Linked DNA regions of Homo sapiens: region 2 is linked to region 1. Evidence: fine-mapped QTL for protein levels in blood plasma. Region 1 holds a variant in brackets. A gene starts in the other region. All regions are shown on their forward strands.

The links. PIP is the chance, under the fine-mapping model, that this variant and not a neighbour inherited with it causes the effect. The UK Biobank Pharma Proteomics Project read protein levels with antibody pairs (Olink). The fine-mapping took linkage between variants from a reference panel, not from the people measured, so its PIPs are less certain.
Region 2: it holds the start of SERPIND1, and the variant in region 1 is fine-mapped to the plasma level of the SERPIND1 protein (UK Biobank, PIP 0.94).

What each region holds. Positions count from the first base shown.
Region 1 is chr16:71,610,511-71,619,034 of GRCh38, forward strand. LOC105371334 (a long non-coding RNA gene) reads right to left here. Exons shown (of 3, transcript XR_933717.2): 2 at 1,264-1,399. Among named protein-coding and RNA genes, the nearest start is that of MARVELD3, 11 kb to the right of the region's middle. The variant G/A (reference allele first, on the strand shown) is at 4,982.
Region 2 is chr22:20,769,282-20,777,281 of GRCh38, forward strand. It overlaps SERPIND1 (serpin family D member 1), which reads left to right and starts at 4,832. Exons shown (of 5, transcript NM_000185.4): 1 at 4,832-4,864. All of the region lies in intron 19 of PI4KA (phosphatidylinositol 4-kinase alpha), which reads right to left.

The DNA of each region.
Region 1 (8,524 bases):
CCTGCCCACATCTCATGCTCATCTTTTTCTTCCCAGTGTCACAAAGAATTTACTTAGCTGCCTCTCTCATGAGGCTGTGAGCTCTCAGCCAGCACGGCTATCTTATTTCTCTTCCTTGCATCACAGTGGCATCCACAGTGCCTGATAAGCGGTAGCAATGCAATAACAATAGCTAATACAGGCCAGGCGCGGGGGCTCACACCTGTCATCCCAGGACTTTGGAGGCTGAGGCAGGAGGATGGCTTGAACCCAGGAGTTCAAGACCAGCCTGGGCAATATAGTAAGACCCCTGTCTCTAAAAAAAATTTTAAATAAAATAAAAGAATAGCTAATACATGTGTAGTTTAAATATATGTTAGGCACTGCTCCAGTGTGTTATGCATATTACTTATTTAAGCCTATGAAGTAGGTACAATTATCCCCATTTTGCAAGCGAGAGGGTTGCATTTTGGGCAGAGGGAGGGTGAGTGATTTCCCAAGCTCAGTCTCACCTGTGTATTAGGCGAAGTTCAGGAAATAGTGAACCTATTTAGTGAACCTAAATAGTGAACTCCAGGCGTTGTTTCACAGCTGGATGAGAGAACTCTGGTCACCCAGGCTGAGTCGGGGGAGGGGATTCTCGAAACTGAGGAAGACGGCATCCTATGGGCTCCCGCGCCTCCCAGCCTGAGCCTGTGCTGCCCCCTGCTGGCCAGCTCTGGGCCCCCTGCAGGCTCCCTTTCCCACCTAGAGCGCCTGCGTAGGAACTAACCCAGCCAGAAGTCCCCTCTGCCACCAGAGCTTGAGTCTAGGGTCTGACAGCAAGCACAGGATGTGCTGAGTGGGGAAGAGAATCAAAAGATCTCGCGGGGAATGTGCAAGGATTTCCCCCTTGATCCACATACCTAAGGACTGCCTCCCTCATAAGTGAAGGCTGAAAGAAACCATTCAAAGAAACCAAATGGGAAAAGTCAGCTCTGTCCCCAAATGCCATTGCCTGTACCCAAAATCAATAGAAATGTTTATTTGTTTAAAGAAAAACTTAGGTAAATATTTGGATTATTCTTACATTAGATTCTCCTTTAGGATGGAATATTGAGTGCTAAATTAACACACCGGTTCTTAATTAGGGTGCCTGATGGAGCTATTCGAAAACACAGATGCCCGGGCTCTGTTCCCAGCCTGCTGAATCAGAATCACCGGGAGGCGCTACTTCTTCTCCGGACTAGCCTCAAACCCAGATTTTCCCAAACCCCAAAGCTCCCAGACCGTTTAATATCTCACCTTTCCAGCTGGAGGAAAACCAATGCCTTTCCACTTGAACTTCAGTGAAAAACTTCATTGTCTAGAGAATACTCCTCCAGGGTATCTGACTCTAGTCTTTCATTGACTTTGAGCTATTTTACAAAATAGCTAATTGCTGGCAATGCAAAAAAAAAATTATTGTTTATAAACATGCAAATTATGTTCTGTCTAGTAGAAAGTCAATTGATTTTGCTTACCCTCTGTAAAAAAAAAAATCCGTTTGCCTCCATTTGCACATTTATTTCATTATTCCTGGTCTACAAATGGGTCTATTTTTTGAACCTATTGTAATATCTGCTTGATTTCTTCAATGATCATTGAGTTAAAGAAAATCTTGAACATGTTCATTTTATATCTATGTGAGAGTTTCTTTCTTTTTTTCTTTTTTTTTTTTTTTTTTGAGATGGGAGTCTCGCTCTCTCTCCCAGGCTGCGGTGCAGTGGCCCGATCTCGGCTCACTGCAACCTCCGCCTCCCGGGTTCAAGTGATTCTCCTACCTCAGCCTCCTGAGTAGCTGGGATTACAGGCGCACGCCACCAAACCCGGCTAATTTTTGTATTTTTAGTAGAGACAGGGTTTCACAACGTTGGCCAGGCTGGTCTCGAACTCCTGACCTCAAGCAATCTGCCTGTCTCGGCCTCTCAAAGTGCTGGGATTACAGGCTTGAGCCACCACATCCGGGCGAGAGTTTCTTTTTTGGAAAATTATTTTTAATATACCAGTGACAAGTACTTTCCTATTCTCTACTCTTTGGTCATCTGCCACTTACACTCTTTGCTTTGGTTAAAGTTTACTCGGGGGATTTTCTCAGAAAATAACTCCCTTTTTGTAACTTTCCACTGTATGCATAATGTCTGTCCGAAGATTCCTGGAAGAACAGCAGAATAACCAAAAGGTGTTATATTTTTAATTAAGGCAAAAGAGAGGTCAGAAGATTGGTTCCTAAACTTCTCTTCCACAAATAAAATAAACTCATCAGATGTTCACTAGGCTTTAACTCTCAACTACCTTACTTACTCCGTCCTTACTTGTGTGGTTGATTAATTTATCAAAAATTACACATATTAGAGACAGAGTCTCACTCTGTTGCTCAGGCTGGAGTGCAGTGGCATGATCTCGGCTCACTGCAACCTCCACCTACCTGGTTCAAGAGATTCTCCTGCCCCAGCCTCCCAAGTAGGTGGGATTACAGGCATGCACCACCACACCCAGTGGATTGTTTTACTTTTACTGTACCTAATGATGTTATAAGTTGCAACAGAAAATAAAAGATCCCTGTCATCTCCTTGAGTACATAGAATTAATTTGTAAGAACTAATGTTTCCAAGCATGGTGGTTCACTCCTATAATCTCAGCAGTTTGGGAGGCTGAAGCAGGAGTAACGCTTGAGCCCAGGAGTTTCAGACCAGCCTGGGCAACATAGCAAGACCCTATCTCTCTCTACAAAAAAAAAAGAAAAGAAAAGAAAAGAAAAGAAAAAACTTAGCCAGACATGGTGGCATATGCCTGTAGTCCCAGCTACTCAGGAGGCTGAGGCGGGAGAATCGCTTGGGCCCAGGAGGCCAAGGCTACAGTGAGCCATGATTGTGCCACTACACACCAGCCTTGGTGACAGAGCAAGATCTTGTTATTTACCCAATGATTATTTATTGAGCATCTACCAGGTGCCAGGCATAATGGCAAAGGCATAGTCTATGGGAGCTGACAGTCCAGAGAGAGGTGCAGACACTACACAAATACAGTCATGCGTTGCTTAATGTCAGGGGTATGTTCTGAGAAATGCATCATTTGGTGATTTTGTCATCGTGTGAACATCATAGAGTGTATTTATACACAGAGTGTACCTACTTGGTATAGCCTACTAAACGCACCTAGGCTATATGGTATGGCCTATTGCTCCTAGACTGCAAATCTGTATAGCATGTTATTGTACTGAATTTTTTTTTTTTTTTTTTTTGAGGCAGAGTCTCGCTCTGTCACCCAGGCTGGAGTGCAGTGGTGCCATCTCAGCTCACTGCAACCTCTGTCTCCTGGGTTCAAGTGATTCTTCTGCCTCAGCCTTCTGAGTAGCTGGGGACTAAAGTCGTGGGCCACCATACCCGGCTAATTTTTGCATTTTTTTTTCTTTTTTTTTTTTTAGTAGAGATGGGGTTTCACTATGTTGGCCAGGCTGGTCTTAAACTCCTGACTTCAAATGATCCACCCACCTCAGTCTCCCAAAGTGCTGGGATTACAGGCTTGAGCCACCACACCCGGCCAATTAAATGTATACTTTCAAATTTTGAGAACAGCAGATGAAATGCATGTTTTGAGCCAAAATTGCAACAATTCAAAAAAGGACAGGCCAGTATGAGCTGAAGTCGTGGGAAATATTCTGGTTATCTTTTGCTGAGTATCAAATCACTCCCAAACTTAGAGGTATAAGACAACCATTTATTATGCTCATGGATTCTGTGGGTCGGGAATTTGGAAAGGGCACAGTAGGAAGGGCTTGTCTCTGTGCCACAATGTCTAGGGTCTGAGCAGAGAGACCCAAAGGCTGGGGGTCACCTGATGGCTGGGGCTGGAAGCTTCGAGAGCTCATTCACTAATGTCTCGAGACTGATGCTGGCTGTAGACTAAGATCTTAGCTAGAGACAACGAAACACCTATACATGGCCTTTTTATGTCACCTGGGATTCCTTACATTATTGTGACTGGGTTCCAAGGTAGAGCAGCCTCAGAGAGAGCCAGGTAGAAGCTGTATCACCTTTGTTGATGAGCCCAAAAAATCACTCAGCATCACTTCCACTGCATTCTATTCAGGACCAGCTTAATGGGCGTGTGACCTGTGTGGTCACACAGAGCCCCATGCTTGGTTTAATGCTCTGCTCTCACCCCCTGGAAATTCGTAATAATATTTGATGGCCAGGCACAGTGACTCACACCTGTAATCCCAGCACTTTGGGAGGCTGAGGCAGGAGGATCGCTTGAGGCCAGGAGTTCAAGATCAGTCTGGGAAACATGGCAAGATCTCATCTCCACAAAAGAAACTGAAAAAAAAATTAGCCAGCTATGATGATTATGCACACCTGTAATCGCAGCTACTCAGAAGGCTGAAGTGGGAGGATCACTTGAGCCCAGGAGTTTGAGGCTACAGTGAGCTGTGATCACACCACTGCACTCCAGCCTGAGCAACATAGCAAGACCCTGTCTCAAAACAAATAACTAAATAAATGTTTGTACAAGGGCCCCGTATTTTCATTTGACTGGGACCCACAAATGATGTAGCCGGTTTTGATTCTATTTGTCCAGGCAGTCACAAGGGCCTGCGCAGGCTCACAGGGTGGGGACACTGACTTCCCCTCTAGATGGGGCAGTAGCAAGGTTCTGGAAAAGCATGTGAAACTGGAAATATTGGTGTGGCCTTTTTTTTTTTTTTTTTGAGATGGAGTTTCGCTCTTGTTGCCCAGGCTGGAGTGCAATGGCACGATCTCGGCTCACTGCAACCTCCGCCTCCCGGGTTCAAGCAGATTCTCCTGCCTCAGCCTCCCAGGTAGCTGGGATTACAGGCATGTGTCACCATGCCCAGCTAATTTTGCATTTTTAGTAGAGACGGGATTTCTCCATGTTGGTCAGCCTGGTCTCCAACTCCTGACCTCAGGTGATCTGCCCGCCTCGGCCTGCCAAAGTGCTGGGATTACAGGAGTGAGCCACC[G/A]CGCCCAGCTGGCGTGGCCTTTCTCAGAAAGTACAATCTGCCACAGAGGGTTTGTAGAGAATTTAAGATGTAGCCTGGACCTGTAAAAGACTTTTAAGTGTGTAAATTTCTCAGGCTCCCAGGAAGATATCCTCAGGTCCCACCTGTTTCAACAAACCCTCTTAAAGAGCCCACAGCTGATATTTATCTATCCCCATATCTATTCAGCAAATCCTGGTTGAGTGCATTTGGGGACAGGGGAGCATTTACAGGTGATTTGGAGATGTTGGCTTGGGGTTCACAGTGCTGGTGTCAGTAAAAGGAGAAAAAAAGCCTGGGCATGGTGGCTCATGCCTGTAATCCCAGCACTTTTTGGGAGGCTGAGGCAGGCAGACCACGAGGTCAAGAGATCGAGACCATGCTGGCCAACATGGTAAAACCCTGTCTCTACTAAAAATACAAAAATTAGCTGGGCGTAGTGGCGTGCGCCTGTAGTCCCAGCTACTCAGGAAGCTGAGGCAGGAGAATCACTTGAACCAGGGAGAAGGAGGTTGCAGTGAGCCAAGATCGTGCCACTGCACTCCAGCCTGGCAACAGAGCAAGACTTCATCTCAAAGAAAAAAAAAAGAGAGAAAAAAAGCTACAGGGCAAAGCACAAAAACCCTATAAACAAAGTGTCAGGATGTTAAAGAGAGCCAAAGACCACTTTTAGCTGGAGGAATTTGAGCCGGCTTCCTGGAGACATGGCCCCGGGTGGCTCCCCTCCATTCATTCAAGAGTCACTTATTCATTGAACAAGTGTCTTCCGTGCCATTGGAGTTCGAGGCCCTGGGGATTTATCAGGGAGCAGGATATGTCCCCGCTTTCATGCAGCCTACTCTACAAGGTACAGTCAAATAACAGACACATTAAAAAATAAACATAGAGGCCCAGTATAGTGGCTCACGCCTGTAATCCCAACGCTTTGAGAGGCCAAGGCAGGCAGGTCACCTGAGGTCAGGAGTTCGAAACCAGCCTGGCCAACATAGTGAAACCCCGCCTCTACTAAAAATACAAAAATTAGCCAGGCGTGGTGGCACATGCCTGTAGTCCCAGCTACTCGGGAGGCTGAGGCAGGAGAATCACTTGAATCCAGGAGGTGGAGGTTGCAATGAGCCGAGATCGCACCACTGCACTCCAGCCTGGGCAACAAGAGCGAAGACTCCCTCTCAAAAAATAATAATAATAAAGTTGTGATTTCTTTAAAGTATTTTGACTGCTTGTGAGCAGACTTTTAGGCAATTAAGAGAAAAATATCCTTAGACTAAGTGGATAAAATTTTTTCTCAAATATTTAAACATAGGCAAAACATAACAAGCTTAAAGACTGTACTTTTCAAATGTTCTACAAGTGGACATGTATTATTATTGTTATTATCATTATTTTGAGACAGGGTCTCACTCCATTGCCCAGGCTGGAGTGCAGGGGTGCCATCACAGCTCACTATAGCCTTGACCTCCTGGGCCCAAGCGATCCTCTCACCTCAACCTCCCAAGTATCTGGGACTAGAGGTGTGCACCACCACACCCAGCTAATTTTTGTATTTTTTGTAGAGACAGGGGTCTCCCTATGCTGCCCAGGCTGGTTTTGAACTCCTTGGCTCAAGCAATCCTCCCGCCTCAGCCTCCCAAAGTGCTGGGATTACAAGTGTGAGCCACCATGCCTAGCCTGTGTATTATTTTTATAATCAGAAAAAAATAGTTCTTAAAATCACTGGGAAGGTGATTTTAATCACATTTCCACCGATGTACAGAGTGCAAGAGCTATGGGGACATGGCTACCTCTGCCTAGATTTTAAAGGACATTTAGTTTAGGAGAAAAACCAAAAGTTTGGTAATACATGCTGTTGATGAACTTGTGGGGAAATAAACGCTCTCATGTATAACTAATGGGAATACAAACCTATATAATTCCTATGAAGGACATTTGGCAATCTGTCAAAAGTTTAATGTCTTGGGAGGCTGAGGTGGGTGGATAACTTGAGGTCAGGAGTTCAAGACCAGCCTGGCCAACATGGCAAAACCCTGTCTCTACTAAAAATACAAAAATTAGCCAGGTATGGTGGTGGGTGCCTGTAGTCCCAGCTACTTGGGAGGCTGAGGCAGGAGAATCACTTGAACCCAGGAGGTGGAGGTTGCAGTGAGCCGAGATCATGGCACTGATCATGGCACTGCACTCCAACCTGGGCGACAGAGTGAGACTCAGTCTCAGAAAAAAAAAAAAAAAAAAAAAAAGATTAATGTCTAGGTCACTTTTTAGACTGGTTCCTTCACCACTTCATTAAAGACTCACCCCATTCCAAGCCCTGCCATGATCACCATTGAGGCTACAGATACAATATACCAGGCTCTTTTTTTTGTTTTTGAGACAGAGTTTTGCTGTGTCTCCCAGTCTGGAGGGAAATGGCGTGATCTCAGCTCACTGCAACCTCTGCCTCCCAGGTTCAAGTGATTCTCCCACCTTTGGATGGCTAGGTCACTTTTTAGACATTAAACTTTTGGAGATATACCCCACAGATGTACATGTGAGAATGCAAAATAACACACAAGGTCATTCATACAGCTTTATAGTAGCAAAAGATTAGAAATAATCATACAGCTTTATAGTAGCAAAAGATTAGAAATAATCCAAATGTCTATCAAGAGAGCACTAATTAAATCAGTTATGATACAGTCATACAGCAGGGCACTATGCAGCTTGAAAAAAAGAATGAGGACCTTTTTTATTTACCAATATGAAAAGATCTTCAAGATAATTACATGAAAAAAGCAAGTCACAGAACAGAGAACACTATGCTACCTTTCGTGTGAATCGGAAAGAAGGGTATATAGATTTGATCTGCTTATATTTATGTGAATCAAACCCTAGAACAATTCACAAGAAAATCATTGCAATGATTGTTTGTTGAGGGGGGCTCTGGATCCCCTTTTCCTGCTGATATACCCATCCCCCAGCCACGATGACACTGACTGACAGCAAGTCACAGCTGTTCCTTCTCTGGGGAATTGCCTGCCACCCAAAAGAGGGCCACCTGACTTGGAAAGGGTATGCTATGGTCTGAACATCGGTGTTCCCCAAAATTCATATGTTGGAACCCAATACCCAATGTGACAGTATCAAGAGACAGAGCCTCGGGGAAAGTGATGAGGTCATAAGGGCTCTGCCTTCATGAATGGAATTCGTGCTCTTATAAAAGAGGTTGAAGGGAGCTTCCTTGCTCCTTTTACCATGTGAGGACACTTAGAAGGCATCATCTATGAGGAACAGGCCTTCATCAGACACCAAATCTGCTAGCATCTTGATCTTGGACTTCCTGGTCTCCAGAATTAATGAGAAATAAATTTCTATCATTTACAAATTATTCAGTCTATGGTATTTTGTTATAGCAGCCCAAATGGACTGAACAGAAATTGGTAGGAGAAGTGGGGTGCTGCTGTAACAAATACCTAAAAATGTGGGAGCAGCTTTGGAACTAGGTAATGGCCAGAGGTTAGAAGAATTTGGAAGAGCACACTAGAAAAATCC
Region 2 (8,000 bases), not on the chromosome of region 1:
TCTCCCTGCTCTCTGACTTCTCCGAGCCTGCTGGCCACTGTCTTGGCTGAGACTGCTCTAGTCTCCAGAAAGGAGATCTGCTCACTCCTAAGAAGTATCAAGGTCAGGCCAGGTGTGGTGGCTCACGCCTGTAATCCCAGCACTTTGGGAGGCCAAGACAGGCAGATCAGGAGGTCAGGAGATCGAGATCAGCCTGGCTAACACGGTAAAACCCCATCTCTACTAAAAATACAAAAAATTAGCCAGGCGTGGTGGCACACACCTGTAGTCCCAGGTACTCGGGAGGCTGAAGCAGGAGAATCGCTTGAAACCAGGAGGCCGAGGTTGCAGTGAGCCAAGATTGCGCCACTGCACTGCAGCCTGGGCGACAGAGCGAGACGCCATTTCAAAAAAAAAAAAAAATCAAGGTCAGGGGGGAAGTGGGAAGACTGAAATAGATAAAGGATTCTAAAGAGATATAACAGTCAAATGCGACACATGAAACCCTGACCAGATAAAAATTAAAAACCCATAAAATACATGTTTGAAGTCATAGAGTAATCTGACTTGGACTAGACATGTGATATATGTGAGGCTTGTGATCTTCCCAGGAGTGATGGTAGCACAGCACAGGGCAGAGACCCGTCCATGGAAGAAACACTGGTGCTAGTGCCCAGGGCAGAAGTGAGTGATGTCTTTAAGTGGATATGGAAAAATATTAACTATTCTACCTAGGTTGTGGGTGTATGGATATTTAGTATTCAATTATTCCAATTTCTCTGTGTATGTATACATATTTTTTTTAGAGACAGGGTCTCACTCTGTCGACCACACTGGAGTAGGGGGTACAATCATAGCTCACTGTACATACTCAAGTGATCCTTCTGCCTCAGCCTCCTGAGCAGATGGGACTACAGGTGTGCAGCATCATGGCCCAGTTTTTTTTTTTTTGGTAGAGATGGGTTTTGCTAGCCGGGAGCAGTGGCTCATGCCTGTAATCCTAGCACTTTGGGAGGCTGAGGCGGGCAGATCATCTGAGGTCAGGAGTTCAAGACCAGCCTGGGCAACATGGTAAAACCCTGTCTCTACTAAAAACACAAAAATTAGCCAGGCATGATGGCAGGCGCCTGTAATCCCAGCTACTTGGGAGGCTGAGGCAGGAGAATCGCTTGAACCCAGGAGGCAGAGGTTGCAGCAAGCTAAGATTGAGCCACTGCACTCCAGCCTGGGCAACAGAGCAAAAACTCCGTCTCAAAAAAAAAAAAAAAAAAAGAGAGAGAGAGAGATCGGTTTTGCTATGTTGCCCAAGCTGGACACGGACACACACACACACACACACACACACACACACACACACACACACACACACACAAGCTGGACACAGAGACACACACAGTGACAGGGCAAAGGTTCCAAAATTTTAAACCTGGTAAATCTGGGTACGGGTATACAGGAGTTGTTCTACTACACTATTCTTTCAACTTTTTTGAAAGTTTGAAGTTATTTCAAAAGAAAAAGTTTTCCAAACTTTAGTGATCCTCCTGCCTCAGCCTCCCAAAGTGCTGGGATGATAGGCATGAGCCACCGTGCCTGACCCCTCTGTATATTTTTAGAATTTCATGTTAAAAGATGGAAAAGTCTGGATGAGGTAGTTCACGCCTGTCTTCCCAGCTCTTTGGGAGGCCAAGGTGGGAAGACTGCTTGAAGCCAGACGTTCAAGACCAACTTGGCCAACATAGTGAGACCCCGCTTTTTTCTAACTAAAAAAATTTTTTTCCAAGTTGGAAAAAATATCTAGCCATAAGACAAACCTTGAAACTGCAAAAGAACAATGGAGTATGTGTGACAGGAGGTACTGCTCTACAGTGGGGTTAAAGCCATACACAAGCTGTGGTGGCTCACGCCTGTAATCCCAGCACTTTGGGAGGCCGATGCGGGCGGATCATGAGGTTAGGAGTTCAAGACCAGCCTGGCCAGCATGGTGAAACCCGTCTCTACTAAAAATACAAAACATTAGCCAGACGTGGTGGTGGGCACCTGTAGTCCCAGCTACTAGGGAGGCTGAGGCAGGAGAATGGCGTGAACCCAGGAGGCGGAGCTTGCAGTGAGCTGAGATTGCGCCACTGCACTCCAGCCTGGGCGACAGAGCGAGACTCTGTCTCAAAAAAAAAAAAGCCATACACAAGCTGTTACCACTAAATGGGAAAATGACTGAAAAATGTCAATGTCAAGAGGGACTGAAATCAAATTTTTCCAATAGTGGGTTACATGATCAGAAATCCAAATAGACAGGAAATATGTTGGCTTTATTTATTTATTTATTTATTTATTTATTTATTTAGACAGAGTCTCACTCTGTCACCCAGGCTGGAGTACAGTGGCATGAACTCGGCTCACTGCAACCTTCACCTCCCAGGTTCAAGCGATTGTCCTGCCTCAGCCTCCCGAGTAGCTGGGACTACAGATGTGTGCCACCACACCCAGCTAATTTTTGTATTTTTAGTAGGGACGGGGTTTTACCATGTTGGTCAGGCTGGTCTTGAACTCCTGACCTCAAGTGATCCACCCGCCTTGGCCTCTCAAAGTGCTGGGATTACAGGTGTGAGCCACCACACCTGGCCGGTACTGGCTTTAAAAATAACAAAAGTAATACATACACATAGAAAAAGGTCAAACAAAGAAGTACATAGAATGAAAAATGAATGCTGTGTCCCCTCCCAGACCATTTCTGTGAATAAATATGTAATACCATGAAATGATGAGGACTAACATTTTCTGAATGCCAGGCACCACTCTATGTGCTTTCCACACATTCATTAACCTCATTTAATTTTCTCATTTAATTAATGAGATAAATTAATGTATCTCATTTAATTTTCACAACAACCTCATGCAGTAGGTGTAACTGTCACCCTCATTTCAGAGAGCAGAATACTGAGAGCTGGAGGCCAAGGGGCAATTTCAGCCAGGGTGGCTGGTGACGCCTCGGTGAAACCAAGAGCGAACAGTGAGAGCAGCGGCCACCTGCTGGTCTGCAGGGATGGTGTCCTGGGCAGAAAGAATAGCAAGTGCCAGGGCTGTGCTGGGGCCGGGCTTTGCATGTGTGAGAACAAGACAGAGAATGAGGGAGGTGGGCCCACGAGGAGTGTGGGCACAGACAGCAGCCTCTGCCTGTGGTGCCACGCTGAAGACTCAGTATTGTATGTGACAGATGAAGGCTCTAAGAAGACAGCTCTGACAAAAGCTAGAGTGCAAAATCAGACTCAGACACAACCACCGGTCTGTGTCCTGAACACAATGGACCTTTACACTCTGGAATTTCTCAAACGGAGCAATGCACAGACACCCCCATGGGCCCCTTGCACACCCGCAGATTCTCCTAGGAGTCACATTCTCTCTTCAGATAGACTCTGGGTGCCGACACTCCCAAACATGCTCTTGAGGAGCAGTCTCTGTGATAAGCTGATCTTCCAGACAATCCAGAATATTCTTAAAACTTTTTAGATCATAAAATTTAAAACACAAATTAAAAAACAAATTATCATAAGGCCGGGCACAGTGACTCATGCCTGTAATCCCAGCACTTTGCAAGGCTGAAGCAGGAGGATCACTTGAGCCCAAGAGTTCAAGACCAGCCTAGGCAACATAGTGAGACCCTGTCTCTACAAAAAAGTCAAAAGTTAGCTAGACATGGTGGTGTGCACCTGTATTCCCAGCTACTTGCAGGGCTGAGGTGAGGAGGATTGCTTCAGCTCGGGAGGTTGAGGCTGCAGTGAGCCAAGATCACGCCACTGCACTCCAGCCTGGGTAACAGAGTGAGACCCTGTCTCAAAAAACACATAGGGCCAGGCGTGGTGGCTCACGCATGTAATCCCAGCACTTTGGGAGGCCGAGACGGGAGGATCACTTCACTCCAGGAGTTCAACACCAGCCTGGCCAACATAGTGAAACCCCGTCTCTACTAAAAATACAAAAAATTAGTTGGACATGGTGGTGTGCGCCTGTAATCTCAGCCACTCAGGAGGCTGAGGCAGGAGAACGCTTGAACTTGGGAGACAGAGGTTGCAGTGAGCTGAGATCGCACCACTGCACTCCAGCATGGGCAGCAGCGCGAAACTCTGTCTCAAAACAAACAAACAAACAAACAAACACCCATAAACACAAAATGTATCACAGCCTCAGAGATCCCCACGAATGCCTAAGTGGCCCTGAATTTGGGAGGCACTGCTCAGTAATAGTCCTATCTGTCCCACAACAGACAGGAGTGCTGGGCTGCACCTACTGGCAACAAACACAGCAACCCTTGACTGAAGAAAGGTCCATGCCACAATCCCCTTATTCTGTAAGCCACTAATTTTGTCCTCTCTCCTCCACCTTTCACTGAGGAACGAGCTCTTGGAAGGACAGGGACACCCGCCTAGTAGCTGAGCCAGCCACATCAGTCCTGGAGAGCAGGTGGAGGGCAGATGCTGTGATCATCCCAGAAGAGAGGACACAGTTGGAGGCAGATGCATGGTCTCTACTTTCAGCTACCCTCAATGCAGCCTGGTCCCCAGAGGCCTGAAGAGCGCCTTGTTTATGTGGTGACCTCAAGAGGGGCTGCTCCTGCACCAAGGCTATGTGTGCATGCTAACACAGTAACCGTCATATACTCAAAGTGTCAGCTCTAAGAACTGGAGATGAGGAGCTGCAAGCCACTCTACAGTTATCAAAGGCACAGCTGAGGGGGTTTGTGCTGACCAAGCTGGTTGCCTGGTGTTTGGATTGGGACTTATTTACTTTGGAAAATATGCAGCAACAGCCCAGCACCAAAGTTCACATCAAAATCCCACTGATGACCTTGGCTGCTTTCATCTCTGAAGCGCCACTTCTCAGAAACACAGAGGTAAGTTGGGTTTCTAATGTTTCTGCTGATTATAAATTATTTTTGGTGTTTACGGATAGGCAACTGGTTCATTTTTCTAGCAAACTAAGAATTCAGAAGCTTTCTACACTGTTTTAGAAGTGGGAAATGGTTTCATTTTTCAGTGTGCCTATTATAAAATTGTGTCAGTTCCATTGTTGGGAGAGTTGACAAACTTAGAATAGGAGCTGTGGAATAGATGAAAATATTGTACTTATATTAAATTAATCGAATTGGATAACTGTCCTGTGATTATGTATGAGAATATCCTTGCTCTTGGGTATTTTCCCTGAAGTATTAGTATTAAAGGTTAGAGGGGCCGGGTGCAGTGGCTCACGCCTGTAATCCCAACACTTTGGGAGGCCGAGGCGGGTGGATCACGAGGTCAGGAGTTCAAGACCAGCCTGACCAACATGGTGAAGCCAAGTCTCTACTAAAAATACAAAAATTAGCTGGGCGTGGTGGCACGCGCCTGTAATCCCAGCTACTCAGGAGGCTGAGGCAGGAGAATCGCTTAAACCCGGGAGGCAGAGGTTGCAGTGAGCGGAGATCGTGCCACTGCACTCCAGCCTGGACAACAGAGTTAGACTCCGTCAAAAAAAAAAAAAAAAAGAAGAAAAAAGAAAAAATGTTAGAGGAACAAGATATAGGAGACCTACTCTCAAATGGTCTAGAAGAAAAAATGTGTATGTGCATGCCTGTGAGAACACACACGTACGTACACACACACACAGATAATGACAGGGCAAAGGTTCCAAAATTTTAAACCTGGTAAATCTCGGTACGGGTATACAGGAGTTGTTCTACTACACTATTCTTTCAACATTTTTGGAAGTTTGAACTTACTTCAAAATAAAAAGTTTTCCAAACTTTAGGCAGTTACTTCTCTCCCATTCTGCCTGCTCTGTTGGGCCTGGAGACCATACACCAGGAGGGATGACGGTTTATCAAGTGTTATGCTCTGATGCGTGACTGAAAAGGCCAACCCAGCTCTGGCAATTAGCAAGAAAGCACAATATGAAGTTCCCAGGAAAAAAAAAAAGCAAAACAAACTTTTGAATGATTTATCTTTAAAATATATTGTTTCTCTTCAAACAGTAATCTGGATTTAATCACAACCTAGTGATAGTTTTTAAACGTCTTCTACAATGTTTGTTATACTAAATAGCAAAACATCAGGAAGATTTACCTTCAGATCTTTAATTTCAATCCATAAAAGATATCAGAGATATTTTCTCCTTCCTCTGGTAAGGGAATGACGAAAACTATTTTTGGCTTTTTATCAGATAATGTGGGAACAGGGTATAAGAAGTTTCCAAATATAACTTCTGAATACCGGGATAAAACATGCATGTCTTTACTCTGCCACTCTATCTGGCCTCAGATACGTTTTCCTGAATGCTTATTTATTCAAGTTGGTTTTTGTTTTGTTCTTTAACCTTATTTTTATCTGAGAAGAAAACATTTTCCCCCTTTGTTCCTTCTTCTTTTGGCTTTCTTTTTTAAAATAGAGATGAGGTCTTGCTATGTTGCTCCAGCTGGTCTTGAACTCCTGGGCTCAAGCGATCCTCCTGCCTTGGCCTCCCAAGATGCTAAGATTACAGGTGTGAGCCCCTATGCCTGGTCTTCTTCTTCTTGATCTTAGCCAAAAGGCCAAGAAGTGATAAGAGGAGGACACTTGAAGTGTAGTTGGGCAAGGAGCCTTCTACCAGCTGCTTACTTTCTTTGTTCCTGACTTTTAAAAGTGTGTTGCTATTGATACACAGTCTCCTGATATGTAAAATGCTGGGAGGATGAAGCTAAGTTACTCAAAGTGCCATTCAGAAACTGGGCCCAGTTCTATTTGCAGCTACATACATTAGAAATCATTTCTAGAGGCTGAGCATGGTAACTCATACCTGTAATTCCAGCACTTTGGGAGGCCAAGGCAGGAGAATTGCCTGAGCTCAGGAGTTTGAGACCTGTCTGGGCAACATGGTAAAACCCCATCTTTACCAAAAACACAAAAAATTAACTGGGTTTGGTGGCACACACCTGTGGTCCCAGCTACTTCAAAAGGCTGAGGTGGGAGGGTCTCTTGAGCCTGAGAGGAACAGGTGGCAGTGAACCAATATTGTGCCACTGCACTCCAGCCTGGGTGACAGAGTGAGACCCCGCCGTCTCAAAATAAAAATAAAAAGAAATCGTTTCTAGAAACTGTTTTCCCGTGTGTAAACTAGTGGCACTGCAGCCTGAGGCAGGTGCTGAGATGGGGACCTGGAAAAGGCAACAGGCATTTTGAGTCAGAAACAATGTGACTTTCCTGCTCCAAAATGTGCAATTCAAAAGTCTTTCTTAGTTGTGACTAAAACAAACTTTGAACTTACTATTTCAACAGTATTATAAGGGGAAGACCCAAGGAATGGGACTGGCACTGGGAAAACAGCTAGGAAGCTGCTCTGCACGGCCAGGGAGTCTGGAAGCATCCTGGTACTCCAGAGCGAACAAGGCTGAGCGCTTGATGTGGGGCTTAGAGGCTTAACCAACTTGGTTCGAATCTAGCCACTGCCACTTATTAGTGACAGTGACGAAAGGCTCAGTCTCCTGATATATAAAATGTTGGGAGGATGAAACTAAGTTACACGAAGTGCCTTATACAGCGTGTCAGGCATCCAACAGAGGCCATTATCAACATTAACCACACTGACAGCATTTCAAGCAGAGTATCCGAACAGTTACCCCATCTTCAGGCCTACTGAGTTCAAATATTTGCTTAACAAGAGCAGCCAGTAACTCTTACCTGGCCTCAACTGGCAGCAGATATTCTGGGCCTCAAATATCTATCTAATAGGAAATGGTCACAGACACAAAATAAGCTTAACAAAAGGCAGTTTTTTTTTGTTTTTTTTTTGTTTTCTGTTTTTTGAGATAAGGACTCACTCTATCCCCCAGGTTGGAGTGCAGTAGTGGCGTGATCACGGCTCACTGCAGACTCAAGTGATCCTCCTACTTCAGCCTCTCAAGTAGATGGGACCACAGGCGTGTGCCATCACACCAGGCTAATTATTTTTCTTTTCTTTTTTTTTTTTTTGAGACGGAGTTTCGCTCTTTTTGCCCAGGCTGGAGTGCAATGGTGCGA